Homo sapiens: one gene and its partner. The protein of the gene in region 2 interacts with the protein of the main gene of each other region in a pairwise test. Each region holds a gene or a part of one and is shown on either strand. Other genes may lie near its edges.

The links.
Region 1: the proteins of AGPAT3 (region 2) and FAM133A interact in binary tests that used the Homo sapiens proteins (3 or more experiments, as listed by UniProt).

Annotation. Positions count from the first base shown.
Region 1 is NC_000023.11:93,705,014-93,712,850, reverse strand, and holds the end of FAM133A (protein FAM133A), read right to left. Parts: intron 7,406-7,837; exon of another isoform or gene 4,577-7,405; intron 3,535-4,576; 5' UTR 3,432-3,534; coding exon 2,685-3,431; 3' UTR 586-2,684; downstream 1-585.
Region 2 is NC_000021.9:43,958,993-43,966,829, reverse strand, and holds part of AGPAT3 (1-acyl-sn-glycerol-3-phosphate acyltransferase gamma), read right to left. Parts: intron 7,197-7,837; coding exon of another isoform or gene 7,149-7,196; coding exon 6,971-7,148; intron 6,199-6,970; exon of another isoform or gene 6,051-6,198; intron 1-6,050. UniProt on the Homo sapiens protein: Converts 1-acyl-sn-glycerol-3-phosphate (lysophosphatidic acid or LPA) into 1,2-diacyl-sn-glycerol-3-phosphate (phosphatidic acid or PA) by incorporating an acyl moiety at the sn-2 position of the glycerol backbone.

The DNA of each region.
Region 1 (7,837 bases), on a different chromosome or scaffold from region 2:
GAATGTTATAGCTAAAGCTATACTCCTTACTAAGCACATAGGCAGATCACTAATAACAACTTTAGTGCTTTTCAAATAGGGACAAAATTATGTTGCTTTTAATTTAGAAGCTACATATTAATGTTCAACTAAATCTATTTAGTGTATTATCCTCCATATTTCTATAGCACTTTTCTCTGCTGTAAGTTCTATAATTAATATAAAAAATAGCATTCCTCTTCTTCATCAAGTGCTCATGAGTACTTTTAAAATTTCCTTCTCAAAAACTTTACTGGAACTTTTTTACTACAATCAACAGAATAATGTAGTTTTATTTCCTAGGCAGCATTTCTGATAAGCATGAAATAGGGTAGACCACTCTCTCCCTCAATCATTACATAAAAACCAGTGCAAATACAATGAGTATTTCCTTCTGCTATGGCATAATGATCACTTCTGAGTCAATCTGTAGACTACAGAAGAATGTGATAGAAGAAGGTGAGTTATTTTATGTAAATAATGAAATAGATGTTCTAGAGTTCTATGTTATTGGTCAGATTAGGTTAGGTGATTCCGCAGTAATAAAAAGACCCCAAATCACAGTGGTTTAACACATAACAGTTTATTTCTTACACTTAAAAAGTTTACTGCAAGTCCATCAGCACTCCAGTCAGGTCCCTTCTAAACAGCGACCTAAGGACCCAGGTTGCATCCGTCTTGTAAGTATGCCATTTGGAACATCTTGCTTTCAGGTCACCATGACAGGCAAAAGAAAACTGGAGGGTCATGCAGAACTTTTTACAGTCCAACATGGAAATAGAAAATCACTTCTGTTTACAATCCCTCTGCTTGAAGTAGTCAAATGGCATTGCCTAACTACAAGAGGTTTGGAAGTGAACAGGAGCAGATAGATACATGATGAGCTGTAAATGCTTTTGCCATATTCTACAAATAATATAAGCTTATAAAAAGCATTTTAATGAACAATTCTGAAAAACTCTATATGGATACAAAATATCCCATAAATGTAATAGTTTTTATCAGCATAAACATATATTTTTAGGAAAAAGCTAAAGTTATGAAGCTCCAAGGTAATCTAACATGGCATCACTATAATGTTCCAAGAACTTTAATGAGAGATTCCAGTATTTCCAATGCAAAAAATTTGGCAGCCAACATGTTTATGTAGATGTTTTTTATCTTTATAATTTTACTTGTGATTGAAGGTAGCCGAGATAAAATCTGCTATTGAAAAACAATAGCTATTGAGCTTTTCATCATGCCAAAATACTTTGTACCTATGACATTACAATTAGCACATCCTCCATCACAGGTGGTTTTGAGACACAAATTTATAATTTATGTTACTCTGATATATAAAAATGTAAAGTAAAAATATTTTTTCACTTATTTTTACACTAGTGGTAAAAGTGAATCAGCAACAGATACAAGGCACCAAATTGTAGGAAAATACGGACACAGGAAGATCAATGATGTCATTATCATCTACATTTAACTTCTATATAAATTCAATATTAATGCTTAAGACAACAATCTTTTCAACAACAATCTTACTAAGATTTTGGCAGTAGTTTCATGTAACATACGGCGTACTAGAGGTCTGGCACTCAACTTGCGTACAGTAACCAGCTTCAATATGAAGGCATTACATATTTTTTAAAAAAAACCTTTTCACATGCTAAATATTTTGGCAAGGGTGCAATTAAACACAGTAATGAAATTAATATAGCAAGGCTAAGAAACTAAAAACTTGAAACTTATATCCTAAGCATAAATCATATCTTAAAAAAGGATCATCAGTTATATAGAATATGGTCAGATAATTAAAACTTAACAGTATAAAACATGCAAAAAAAATTTCAGAATATTTCTTAATCAAACAACATCAGGGTCTGTTTAGAATGGTTCCCATACAAAATGGGTATAAAGTTATTTCAAATCATGTAATATTGTAATACTAAATATTATTCAGTACTGTATAGTAAACAGTGCTGAAGAAGAGGTAAATTTCATAGATATGGGGGCTTACTTATGCTGTAAACTCCTGTCCTTCTTGTTCACTTGAAGCAGCATACAACACCCCAGAATTTCATAAAGTAAGAAAAGGACGGCTGCTGCTCTGGCAAAAATAGGATGTGTAAGAGTCAAAGGCACACTATTCAGCTAGCCACAGTGATTAGCAAACACTTGCCCTTCCCACCCCACATGCTCTTTCCCCATGTAAACAAAGATTCATTAAAGAAAAAAGGAAAATGAACTAAACTTATTTACAAAAGCAAGGAATTTGAGACATCAATATTAAGTCCTTGCATCAAAAATACCAACTACAATTGTCTGGAAATTACATTTATGTTTCATTGATGGTGATATTTCAAAGATGTATTCGAATTAGATACATTTAACCTTAGATACACTTTTTTTTGTCAAAGTTATTCATTATCTAACACATTTTACTTTAATTTCAAACATTTTATTCACTGGTATGACAACAGAATTTTAGCTCTCAGAGGAATTAACCATTAGAAGGAAGGACAAGCAAACAAACAAAAATGTATATTGAAGTTGCCAGCAGCCACTATGCCCCTTACTGGCACAGTGGGATTTGATAGGCAACTCAAAGTCCAGAAATAATTCTACTAACACAGGGGAACTCGGCAAACTCATTCTTGCTTTTTTTCTTGATGTTACCTTGACTTGTGACTTGATCCAGACTTCTTTTTCTTCTTCTTACTATGTTTCTTGTGCTGTTTCTTCTTCTTCTTCTTTACTTTTTCCTTTGCTTGTTCTCGCTCTTCACACCTTCTCTTCTTTTTTGCTTGCACATCCTCTTCATAATCTGATTCAGATGAGGACTCAGATGATAAAGGTTTATCATCAGGGTAACTTTTCTTTCTTTTTTTGCTGAGGCTTCTTACATCCTTTTCTTTCTCTGTTTCATCCTTTGACTTCTTTTTCTTTTTTACAGACTCCTTGCTCTCTGATTCTGATTCATGCGTAGAGCTTTGGGATGATTTGTATGAACGGTTCTTCTTTTTCTTTCTCCTTTTTCCTTGTTTCTTTTCCTCATCCTCAGAATCTGAAGAACTGCTTGAAGAATCAGAGCTTGATGAAGAAGATGAAGACCGACAAGATTTCTTCTTTCTCTTTTTCTTTCTTTCTCTTTTTTTAGATGAGCTCTCATTTCCACTTAATAATTTCTCTCTGCTTTTTTCAAGTTCTTTCTTCCAATTTTCATTCATTTTTTCTTCAAATTCAGCTAATGCTTTTGAACCTGTTTTTTTATTTTCTAATTGTTTCTTTACTTCTTCCCAGGTGGGTCTTGGTCGATTTAGATAATCTTGGATTGTTGGGCCCACAGATTGAGTTGGGCCTCTCCATCTGGCCATTGCTATAGGATTCATATAGGCTACCCGATTATCCCGCTTCCCCATGGTGCCTGATGTTTCCAAGGGCAGACTCTCAGTTGCCAAGGAGAACAAAGATAGATACTCGCCTTAAATTCTTTATCTAGTGAAATATCAAGCAAGCTCCATTCTGTAAGAGAAGCAGATGGAATGATTACAAATCACCTTTAATATAAAGACAAACAAACATATAAGCTTAATTGTTAACACTGCCTATCACACAGTACAGTAGAAATTTCCAAAATCTTATACCATGGGAACAAACAATATACACATTTTAAAATTTTACATATTATAGACACTGTGGTATAAACATAATATAAACTAAAAGTGTTTTATATACCTCATGTAAGATTCTGACAGATACCTAAAATATTTAATAGCCATTTTCTCTTACATTGTATGATACTTAACTTTTTCCTTTCTTTCATTCCTGCTTTATATAGTATATAGAGAGAAATTTATAAAACTAAAATCTGTACCAGACAGACCTTCGCCAACTCAAGAAAGTGCAACACAACCCTCTCCATTCCTTTTGACAGAAGCCCAGGAGTCATAACTGAGAAATCCTTCTCCCTCAACGGTCAAATCCAATACATTACTAAATCCTGATATTTAAACCTCCACAATAGGCCTCATATCCATTCACTTGTCTCCAAATATACTGTCATCAACTTAGCCCAGGCCACTATCATCTCTCGCTTGGGCTATTAATCTCTAGTACCTAGTAAGTGTTTATTCTCTGTCAAGGACTGCTTAGTGTTTGCAATGGATTATCTCATTCAATCTCAAGGCCAGACCTATGAAGTTGATCCTATCATTGTCTCTATTTCACAGATAGATAAACTGAGGCTTAGAGAATTAGAGTAAAACTCAAAATTTGAACATGAAGTAACATGGCTAATAAATGGCATATCCAGGATTTAAACAAAGGCAGCCTGATTCCAAGCTGCACAAATAAGGCAACACCAAATTGTCTCCTTACATCAACCTCTTAATAGGTAGCATTTTTCCAACCTTACTCCCTTTTATTCTAGTCCCACACTGTAAACAGAGGGATCTTAAAAAACTCCAGTGGTTTTATATTTTAATGAAAAACAAATCCAATCTCCTATAAGGTCCTATATGATCTGCCCTACTTCTGTCTCTTACTTTTGTTTTGTTTCACTCACCTTTTTTCTCAATTCTTTTCATTTGGTTCCTGGAACATGCCGAATTATAGGCTTAGCCAGCATGGCCAATTCCACCTCATCCTTCAGGTTTCAGCTTAAATGTCAATTCCTCAGAAAGTCAACCATTAGGTTAAACTATGTAAAACTATTTTATGGGACACAAACAGTTTAAAGATCAACAACTTTTTATGGCTCAACCTTATACTAAAGTGGTTTGCCTCTCTGTCTACCCCTCATCCTCATTTTTCTGTATGATAGTTCATCGTTTATTTTATTTGTAGCATTTATGAAATTGGTAATTATTTTATTTGTGATTATTGCGTTATACATGTGTATCCACTGCTAAATGTAAGACCAAGAAGGGTAAAGGTCATGTGTGGCCTATCTTATTCACCACGGTGTTCCCATTACCTGACATAGAATCTGATCCATATTAAGCACTCAATAAATATTTTCTCAATAATAAACAAATAAATAAATGCATGGATGGATGGATGGGTAACTCTGAGAGAAAGGAGGATTCAGAGGGAGTGTCCTGGAGATGGTGATGTCTGTATAGGGTCTTAAGGAATGAACAGGCATTTACCCAGAAAATGAGGAAATTAAGGACAATCTTGGCAGAGGAAACATGAGAAAAGAGCAGCAGGTATTTAGAGTTGATGGAACCTAAAGATCAAGAGGGCAGGGGGAAGGAGGTAAGTTTGCAGAGATAAAAAGAAGCCTAAATATGGAGGCCCTCTTAGGTCATTTGAAAATCTTGAATTTTGTCCTATAGTTGATACAAGAGCCAATAAAGTCTTTTATATAGAAGAGAAAGACGATCAGACATATAATAGATTTTTCTATCAATCTCCATCTTAAATCTGATCCTTTAAGTCAACCTAACATACCTACCCATCATAAGCTCAATGCTATAGACATTTCAGTGACTCTTGGTGATAGTTTCCAACATCTTATTTTCTGTGTTCTTGATCTTATTCTCCTTCCTCTTTATTTATAGGCAGCCCTTTTAGGTCTTTCTGTAATTTTCATTCTTACTCTTACCCTAACCACGTCTCAAATATCATTGTGTCTCTGATTTGACCATTCAAAACTCTTAAATACTTCAGTTCATATTCAACTTGCAGCTTCTTTCTGTTACTTGACACTTACAATAGAATAATCCATTCTAATTTCAGTCCCTTGAGACCTAGTCCTGACATCAGCTAGAAAGATAGGCGAAGGCCAGTTAACAAAGGCTTTGGGTGGTATGCTAAGGTGGTTGGAATCTCTCCTGTGGGATTTACAGTGAAGCTAACGGGGAGACACTATTTTAAGCAGAAAAATGATATGGTCATATTTGAGTGTTTAAGGACAATTATTTGCCCAGTGACAGACGGATTGAAGTCAGGTTAAGACAGAAGGCAATGGGACCACTTAAAAATTCATGTAGACAAGAAATGAAAGAGTCTGAACTCAAACAGCAACACTGTGAATGAAAAGAATGAGAAATATATGAGACATGTTGAGAAGATTCTATTGAAATTAGTGACAAATTGGATACAAAGGATGAAAAAGAGAAAGAAATCTGGGGTAAGGCTCTGGCTCGACACATTAGACCAAAGGCAATGACAATGACTAGGTAATAGAGAAAATGGCACAGACTTCGAGAAAAGGTTCTAGTTTCCATTTTGGACTCCTGAAGTTTGAAGTGCCTATGAGATTTATGGACAATTATCCATGTAAGAAAGAGGATGTATGGGATTTGGCACTTTGGAAAGTGATCTGAGTTAGAAATACTGAACTGGCAGTCGCTGAGTGATAGCTAGGGTCATGAGAGAAAACTAAATTATTTTGCAGGGAAATTTCAAGTGGAAAAAAGTTTGAGACTGGATCCAACTGAACACCAACATGCAAGGGGTTGGCAGTGAATGAAAAACCTACAAAGTATGCATTAAGAAATTAGCCAGAGTAGTAAGAGCTGGACCAGTATCAGAAAAGAAAGAGTCAAGAAACACAGGGTGAATAAAGTTTCAAGGTGAGCATAAGAATCCTTATGACTCTGTAATGTTTAAATTTTCTACAAAAAACAAGTATTATCCTTACCTTTGAAAAATTCATAAAAATAGAAAAGATTTGTTACAGACAACAGTATTAAATGCAGAAGATCAGTCAAGTTCAGATCTGAAAATGTCCATTATACTTAGCTATCAAGAAGTCATTAGTAACCTTTGCTAATGCAATCTCAGCTAAGTGGTGAAGGCACAAGCCAGGTGACAGTGGGTTAAAAGACTGAATTGAAGGTGAGAATGTAGAGACCTAGAGTACATAGTCACAGTCAATACGGAAAGTAAAGAGATAAGAAGGCAACCATGAAAGATGCAGAGTTAAAATTCTTTTGTGTTTTTTTTTACATGAAAGAAACTTGAGCATATTCATAGGGCATCTAGAAGGATAAAGTACAAAGAAAACATGTTTTAAAAACCTAGGTAAGAGAAGAAATAACTAATGTGGCAATATCACAGAGAAAACAGAAAGGAATGAAATTAAATTCAGAGATAGAAAGAATTTCTTCCCCCAAGAGCAGAGGCAAAGAATAAAGACAGGGAATGGATGCAGGATTTTTTGTAGGGTGGTAGGAGGTAAAAGGGAGAAAGATGAAGTATTTCTCACATAATAGCCTTCATTTTCATTCAGTGGTAAGTGCCAAGGTTGTCTGCTAAGATTAAGACAGGAGTTTTGAGACCAGTAATTAAAATTTGGAGTAACAACAGAGAATGGGAGAGGGTGTTGTCACCATGTAAGTGTTGCTGGAGTTCTTCTGAACTGAAGAATCTGTATGATCCTTTCCTAGAAGATAAATCAAATTGAGAAAAGAGAAAAAGTAACACCAACAAAGTCTCTTGCTCAAATACTCTGTTTTAAAAGCACTGTGGCTTATCTTCTCTGTTTCTATTATAGAACAAAGAGTAACTTGATTTTCTGTACATCTACTTATTTTCATGAAATATGCTAAAATCCTGTAAAGGTTAGATATAAATTGTGACAATCATGCTAGTAATCTGGATATTATAATAATATTTGTTCATTGATTCTTACAATTCCCTTTTGATAATCTATTATGTGCCAAGATACTATGCAATGGATATTACAGTTTAGTAAAGGTAATAGTTATTACACAAATATGAAACAAATGAGTATATAATCATAATCATGACTGGGGAGATGAAGGAAAAGTACAGGATGCTATGAAAGAAACAGAGACCTAATTCAGAAGGGAAG
Region 2 (7,837 bases):
CTCAGGACGGCCTCAGGCTTCTCGCGCTGGACACCAGCCCAGCTCTGAAGTGTGGGCTTTCTGCAAGGCCATTGCCCGGGGTTCTTTTATACCAGTTATTTATAAAGGACACTAGAGACCAATTCCAAAGACATCCTGCACGGGTGAACAAAGGGCCGCTACCCGAGATCACGCAGCTCAGCCCAGGATGGCCAGAGACGCCTGCAGACAGCGTGCAGGTGCAGGGAAGTGTCTTCCCAGCGGTCATGATGCTGCAGGCACATGCAGGCGAGCAGAAAGGACGCAGAAAGGAGAGAGGGAACTCAGGGTTTGTGGGGGTACCAAGGGACCCCAATTCCTTTAAAAGAGAAAGGTCACCTGTGGGCAGAGGCAGTGGACGGGAGGAAATCCTGCGTGTGGGGAGAAGACTCGCTGACCAAGCCCCCACAGCAGGCCTGCCCTGGCAGGGGCGCCCCCACCGCTGGCTCACCCCTGGCAAGTGCTTGAGACCTCTGCCTTTAGGGTCATGCCTAAAGGCTGGAGAAGGGGAATGAACTGAATGGGAGCCCACACAGCCAGCCAGACACAGGCACACTCCCCATGAGTGTTCTGGAAAGACGAGCTGCGCTGTCTGGAGAATGGTCCCATCCAAAGGTCACCTGTGGCAAGCCCAGGGACATGTGGCACTTTTCCCTTGCTGTCGGCATGCAAAGGCAGCCTTCAGCGGATCTCAGGACCCCTCGGCTGACGCTGGCTAACTGCAGACAGCTGTCAGGGCAGGCATCTGTAAACTGTCTTGCAGGGTGGGCGGCGCCTGGGCCCGATATGAAATTCCTTTTATCATTTCCTTCACTCAAATACATGCTTCCCTAAAGCACAATGAGTAAGCCAGCCATAGCCTATTTTTCAACCACGGATTTAAAAAAATCTAAAATTCTGGACGGGTGCGGTGGCTCAAGCCTGTAATCCCAGCACTTTGGGAGGCCGAGACAGGAGGATCACTTGAGGCCAGGAGTTCAAGACCAGCTGGGGAAGCATGGCAAAAGCCCATCTCTACTTAAAAATAAAAAAAATTAGCTGGATGTGGTGGCAGGCACCTGTAATCCCAGCTACTTGGGAGGCTGGGGCACGAGAATCACTTGAACCTCAGAAGATGGAGGTTGCAGTGAGCCAAGATCGCACTGCTGTGCTCCAGCCAGGACAACAGAGAGACTCTGTCTCAAAACAACAACAACAACAAAAAAAACCTAAAATTCACCCAATAATAGTAACAATTTATCAAGCATTGCTGTGTACCTGCTGTGCGCATTGATTTAGGCTTTATAAGACAGCTCAAAGGCAGGTGGTTTTGTCTGTGCTCTGCAGATGAGAAAGCTGAGGTTTAGAGACTGAAGCCTTGACCAAGGTCAGCAGGGAGTGAGGAGGCTGGGCCAGGTTGTTTAAACGGCTCCAAACCTGCACCCTTCGCCGCAGCACCTATAGCTCTGCACATCAGATGACAGCAGAGACACACTGGCAGTGAGTTCAAAATGGGCAGCAAGAAGGCACCCAGCATTAAGGAATGAGAACAGGAATGAAGAATTGAAAATAAAACCGTGGTTCAGGGTCATCAGAAAACACTGTGGCTGGTGCGGTGGCTCAGCCTGTAATCCCAGCAGCCCAGCAGGCTGAGGCAGGAGGATCACATGAGCCTAGGAGTTGGAGACCAGTCTGGGCAACATGGCAAAACCCTGTCTCTACAAAAAATACAAAAATTAGCTGGGCATGATGGTGCACACCTGTGGTCTCAGCTACTCAAGGAGGCTGAGGTAGGAGGACTGCTTGAGCCCAGGAGGCAGAGATTGCAGTGAGCCAAGATCACACCACTGCACTCCAGCCTGGGCGACAGAGCAAGACCCTGTCTCAAAAACAAACAAACATAAACAAACCCACTGTGAGGTCTGCTCTCACCATGCGCCCCTGAACTGGCAAAGGCTTCCACATACCTCTGACTGCAGAAAGGCTCCCACAAACATATTCATGGAAATAAATCTAAGTGGAGAACATCCCAAATCCAACAAGTCACAGACGGAATTCACATACCCACGCAAGCCCAGCAGATGGAGAGGCCGATTATTTCTGTTCTTACTGAAGTGCTTTTCTTGTGTATTTGTGGTCATCCCAAGTATCTGGGAATTTTATATTGATCTTAATGTATACCTCAATATTTCTTATTTTAATGCTTTTCTTTCTACTTTCTTGCATTAACAAAAGAGATTTACCTTTTTTTCTTTATCTTTTTCTAATACTTTGGAAGCTATGTTTGATCTCTCTTTTTTCCTACCCTATACTTAACAAAGTTACCATTAAAATCTGAACCTGGGCTGGGCGCTCCCGCCTGTAATCCCAGCACTTTGGGAGGCCGAGGTGGGCGGATCACCTGAGGTCAGGAGTTTGAGACCAGTCTGGGCAACATGGTGAAACCCCATCTCTAATAAAAATACAAAACAAAAAATTAGCTGAGCGTGGTGCAGTCTCACCTCACTGCAACCTCCACCTCCCAGGGTCAAGCGATTCTCCTGCCTCTGCCTCCTGAGGAGCTGGGATCACAGGTGCCCACCACCATGCCAGGCTAATTTTTGTATTTTTAGTAGAGATGGGGTTTCACCATGTTGACCAGGCTGGTCTTGAACTCCTGACCTCAGGTGATCCGCCCACCTTGGCCTCCCAAAGTGCTGGGATTACAGGCGTGACCCACTGCGCCCGGCTGAGCACTGTTTTTATTTTACATACGGTTTAGATTCATCCATCTCCTAATTTCTTTGGCTACCATTCTTTCTTGAAAATTATACCCTACTTTTATAATTTTTGTTCTTACTGAAACACATCCTTAAAAAATATTGAAGTGAAGATCTATGGGCAGTAAAAGCTCTCATTTTTTTGTTTACCAAAACCTTTTTATTTTATTTGTACTCTTGAACAACACAGGGTGCTAGGTTGGTGATTTTCCAGCACATTGAGGATCTTCCACCTTCTCCCGCCACTGCTGCCTGCCGTAAGAAATCTGCTGTCGGCCTCACTGCTGACCATCCAGCGTGGTTCTCCAGCTTTCCTCTCCGGGGATTCGAAGACTTCCTTATCTTTTTTTTTTTTTTTTTTTTTTTGAGACAGAGTCTCACTCTGTCACCCAGGCTGGAGTGCAGTGATGCAGTCTCGGCTCACTGCAACCTCCACCGACCAGGTTCAAATGATTCCCCTGCCTCAGCCACCCCAGTAGCTGGGATTAGACATGTGCCACCAGGCCCAGCTAATTTTTATATTTTTAGTAGAGATGGGGTTTCACCATGTTGGCCAGGCTGGTCTCAAACTCCTGACCTCAGGGGATCCTCCTGCCTCAGCTTCCTGGAATGCTGGGATTAGAGGCGTGAGCCACCGCGCCCGGCTCCTCCTTGTCTCTGATGGTCTGTGATGCCCCAGGGCCTGCCTAGGTGTGGATTTCTGTGCATTCGCTCTGCTTGGTCTACATGTGCTTCCTGTATCTGAAAAATCGTGCCTTCATCAGTTCAGGAGGTCCTCAGGCATCCTCTCTTCCCAGGAGGCTTCTCCTGTTCTCTCCTTTGGGGATGGGGGCCAAAGCCCTATTTTATGAAGGTTCTCATTCTGTCCTTACATCTTTTCACGCCTATTTCACATTTTTCACCTCCTTTACTGTCACTGGATGATTTCTTCACATTGATGTCTGGTGTACCCATTCTCTCATTAACTGTGTCTAATCTGATACAAAATCCATCCATACGGTTTTGCTTTAAAATATCTACAGTTTTCACTGAGAGCAGTTCTACTTGGTTCTGTACCCATTCTCATTAACTGTATCTAATCTGATACAAAACCTGTCTGTAAGTTTTTGCTTTAAAATATCTACAGTTCTCACTGAGAGCAGTTCTACTTGGTTCTCTTTCAAGTCGGGGCACAGTGGGTCATCTTCAGTCCACATCTGCTGTTTACGTTGTCATTCTTGATTATGAATTCATATTTAATTTTCCTTAATCTGTGGGATTCTTCAGGCCTGAATGAGACTTTCTCCAGAGTGTACTTTCGTTTGCCTCTGCTGAAACCCAAGGGTCACTGTTAACCCTAGCTTGTCTCGCGCCCTCGCTCAAGAGTCCTGGTTTAGCTTCAGCGCCCTCTGCTACAGCTGCCCAAGGGTTAGGCTCCTGAAAGGCAGTGCTGACATTCCATTTCTGCACACCCCGGTTTTTGCTAAAGGGATTTGGTGGAAGGGTGGAGCTGAGAGGTTTTTGTTTCCTTACTGTGAGCCCAGAAATGCATTAAAAAGCCAGTTTCAGGCAGGATTTAGCTGTTTTGTAGTATTTTAGCTTCAGAATACTGCTAGAAAGTAGGAGTCTGTAATTTAGTTTTCATCAGTTAATATTTGCCCTTTTTGTATGTATTCATCTTATCCAGTTATACTCATGAATAACTCATTTGTATATTTTATATTATAGGATTTCCAATTCTCCCTTCCCACAGAAAAAAGCAGCAGCCTTTCATTTAAAAAAGGAAACAAACTGGCCGGGCGCGGTGGCTCACGCCTGTAATCCCAGCACTTTCGGAGGCCGAGGTGGGCAGATCACGAGGTCAGGAGATCAAAACCATCCTGGCTAACACAGTGAAACCCCGTCTCTACTAAAAATACAAAAAAAATTAGCCAGGAGTGGTGGCGGGTGCCTGTAGTCCCAGCTACTCGGGAGGCTGAGGCAGGAGAATGGCGTGAACCCAGGAGGCAGAGCTTGCAGTGAGCCGAGATCGCACCACTGCACTCCAGCCTGGGCAACAGAGCGAGACTCAGTCTCAAAAAAAAAAAAAAAGAGAAAAAACAAACCAGGAACTGAAGCTATAACACATTTAAGACAAGCTAGTCTAAGGGCTGGGTTACTAGTCTCTCTGCAGACAGTGGGGTGTCGCAGGCATGAAAAGTTAGCTGACATAAACAGCCTTTTCAGCAGTGCTACCGGCTCCTGAACTGGAAGGAGATCGTGCAGACAAGGTTACAGGCCAGCCATTTCCCATATGAGACAAAGTGTCTATGCGCTCACCATTTCCTACATGAGACAAAGTGTATACGCGCTCACCGTTTTCCATATGAGACAAAGTGTATGTGGGTTCACCATTTCCCACATGAGACAAAGTATCTATGCGCTCACCATTTCCCACATGAGACAAAGCGTATACGCGCTCACCGTTTCCCATATGAGACAAAGTGTATGTGGGTTCACCATTTCCCACGAGACAAAGTGTCTACGCGCTCACTGTTTTCCATATGAGACAAAGTGTATACGCGCTCACCGTTTCCCACGAGACAAAGTGTCTACGCGTTCACTGTTTTCCATATGAGACAAAGTGTCTACGTGCTCACCCTTTCCCACATGAGACAAAGTGTCTATGCGCTCACCGTTTCCCATATGAGACAAAGTGTATGTGGGTTCACCATTTCTCACGTGAGACAAAGTGTCTACGCGCTTACCGTTTCCCACGAGACAAAGTGTCTATGCGCTCACCGTTTCCCATATGAGACGAAGTGTCTATGCGCTCATGCAAAAACATGGAAACAGCATGAGAGTGTGAAATAAAACGTAAGAATCCCCTCCTTTCCCCACTCCCTGGATATCAGCATCACGCAGTTTTCTCGGGCATCCTTCTGAGATTTTTGTTTTCTTTTTTTTTTTTTTTAGACAGAGTCTTGCTCTGTTGCCCAGGCTGGAGTGGTGCAGTGGTGTGATCTCAGCTCACTGCAGCCTCCACCTCCCAGGTTCAAGCAGTTCTCCTGCCTCAGCCTCCCGAGTAGCTGGGATTACAGGTGTGTACCACCATGCTCAGCTAATTTTGTATTTTTAGTAGAGACAGGGTTTCACCATGTTGCTCAGGCTGGCCTTGAACTCCTGACCTCAGGTGATCCACCTGCCTCAGCCTCTCAAAGTGCTGGGATTACAGGCATGAGCCACCATGCCCAGCCCCTTCTGGGATTTTTCCACACATGTACACACCACACACACAGCATCCTTTCTTAAGACACAAAATGAATCATAGCATACTATGGACTTTGTTGTATACTTCCTTTTTCGCTTAAAACTGTACGGGCAAGATGAAGGCTCTCCATGATGGCCGCAGAGGGTCCCTGTATGGGTGCCGCATAATTAGTCTCCAGTGACAGGTGCTTGGGTTGCTTCTAGTTTTGTGCTACTATAAAAATAATACAATAATGAGAATACCTGTGATAAAATGAGAACACCTGTCCAGTTGCATACTTTTGCACATCTCTGTAGGTTGCATGTTATTCTGTGGAATTGCTGAGTTGAAAATTGCAACCACTTAAACTGTTGACGGCCACTGCCAAACCACCCTCCAGAGATGCGCCTGTTCATGTCCCCACGACGCCCGGTGTGAGCGGTTACCTGTCCACAGTGGGTGTTGTTACCAAGCCTCTGAGTCTCTGTCCACATGACAGGTACAGATCGGTTTCTCTATGTATAATACACATACGCACAGAGGCACATACGGACAGACACACAGCTACACATGTGTTTGATACGCAGGGAGGCAGGACACCTTTTCTTTCAGGGATGCATGCTGAAATACGCGTCAGCATGCTCTGGTGTTGGCGCAGTGTGGGCAGGACACACGAGGGGCCATGTAGGGAGCTGTTGGAGCTTGGTAACGGGTAAACAGAACTCAACATTCTCTTTACTTTTGTTTAAACATTCCCATATGCTCTGGTAAACCGTGGGAAGCTGCCATTGCTATGGGTCAGAATGGTGAGAGTGGCACGTCACACAGCTCAAGCTAAGAAAAAGAGGTAGCCAGGTGCCTTCCGACAGCCTGCCAGCCAGATGGCCTCGGCACCTCCTGCATAGCCCTCACTTCCTGCCTGAGAGCCCACGGCTGCCCCGTGCATGGTCGCGCGCCACCCCCACGGGAGCCCCAGGCGGCAGGGACTGGCCCAGCAGACACTCACGGCTCCAGAGTGAGTAGGCGAGGCGGCAGTTGAGGCGGCGGTAGAGCTGCTTGCTGACCGGCCAGAGCGCCAGCGTGCACAGCTGGACGAAGTTGATGACCAGACCACTCACCACGAAGACAAAGCCGACCAGCAGGTGCAGCACGAACTGGGTCTTCAGGAAGGCCAGCAGGCCCATGGCGCTGCTCAGGAGCGGGTGCACGGCCCCTCGCTGAGGACAGCCGTCCTGCAAAGACAGGGACAGGGACAGCGTCAGGGTGGCCACGCCCACACCCTCACAGGAACACCGGGGCACTGCTCACTGCACACCCCGCACATGCCTCACGCTTATACACACATGCTGCACAGCACACTGCAAACCCCACACACGTGCCACACACATACAAACCACACACATGCCACACACACCACACTGCAAACCACACACACGCCACACACCACAAACCACACACACACCACTGCAAACCACACGTCACACACACACCACAAACCACACATGCCACACACATACCACACACACGCCACACACACACAACCACACACACGCCACACACCACAGCTCATCACAAACCCCACACATGCCACACACATGCCACACACACCGCAAACCACACACCACACACACACCACATCACAAACCCCACATGCCACACATCACACACCACACACGCCACACACACTGCAAACCACACACACCACACACGCCACACACATACCGCAAACCAAACACATGCCACACACACACACTGCAAACCACACACATGACACACACACACCACAAACCACACACACCACGCATACCATACCACAAACCACACACATGCCACACACACCACACTGCAAACCACACACATGCTACACACACAC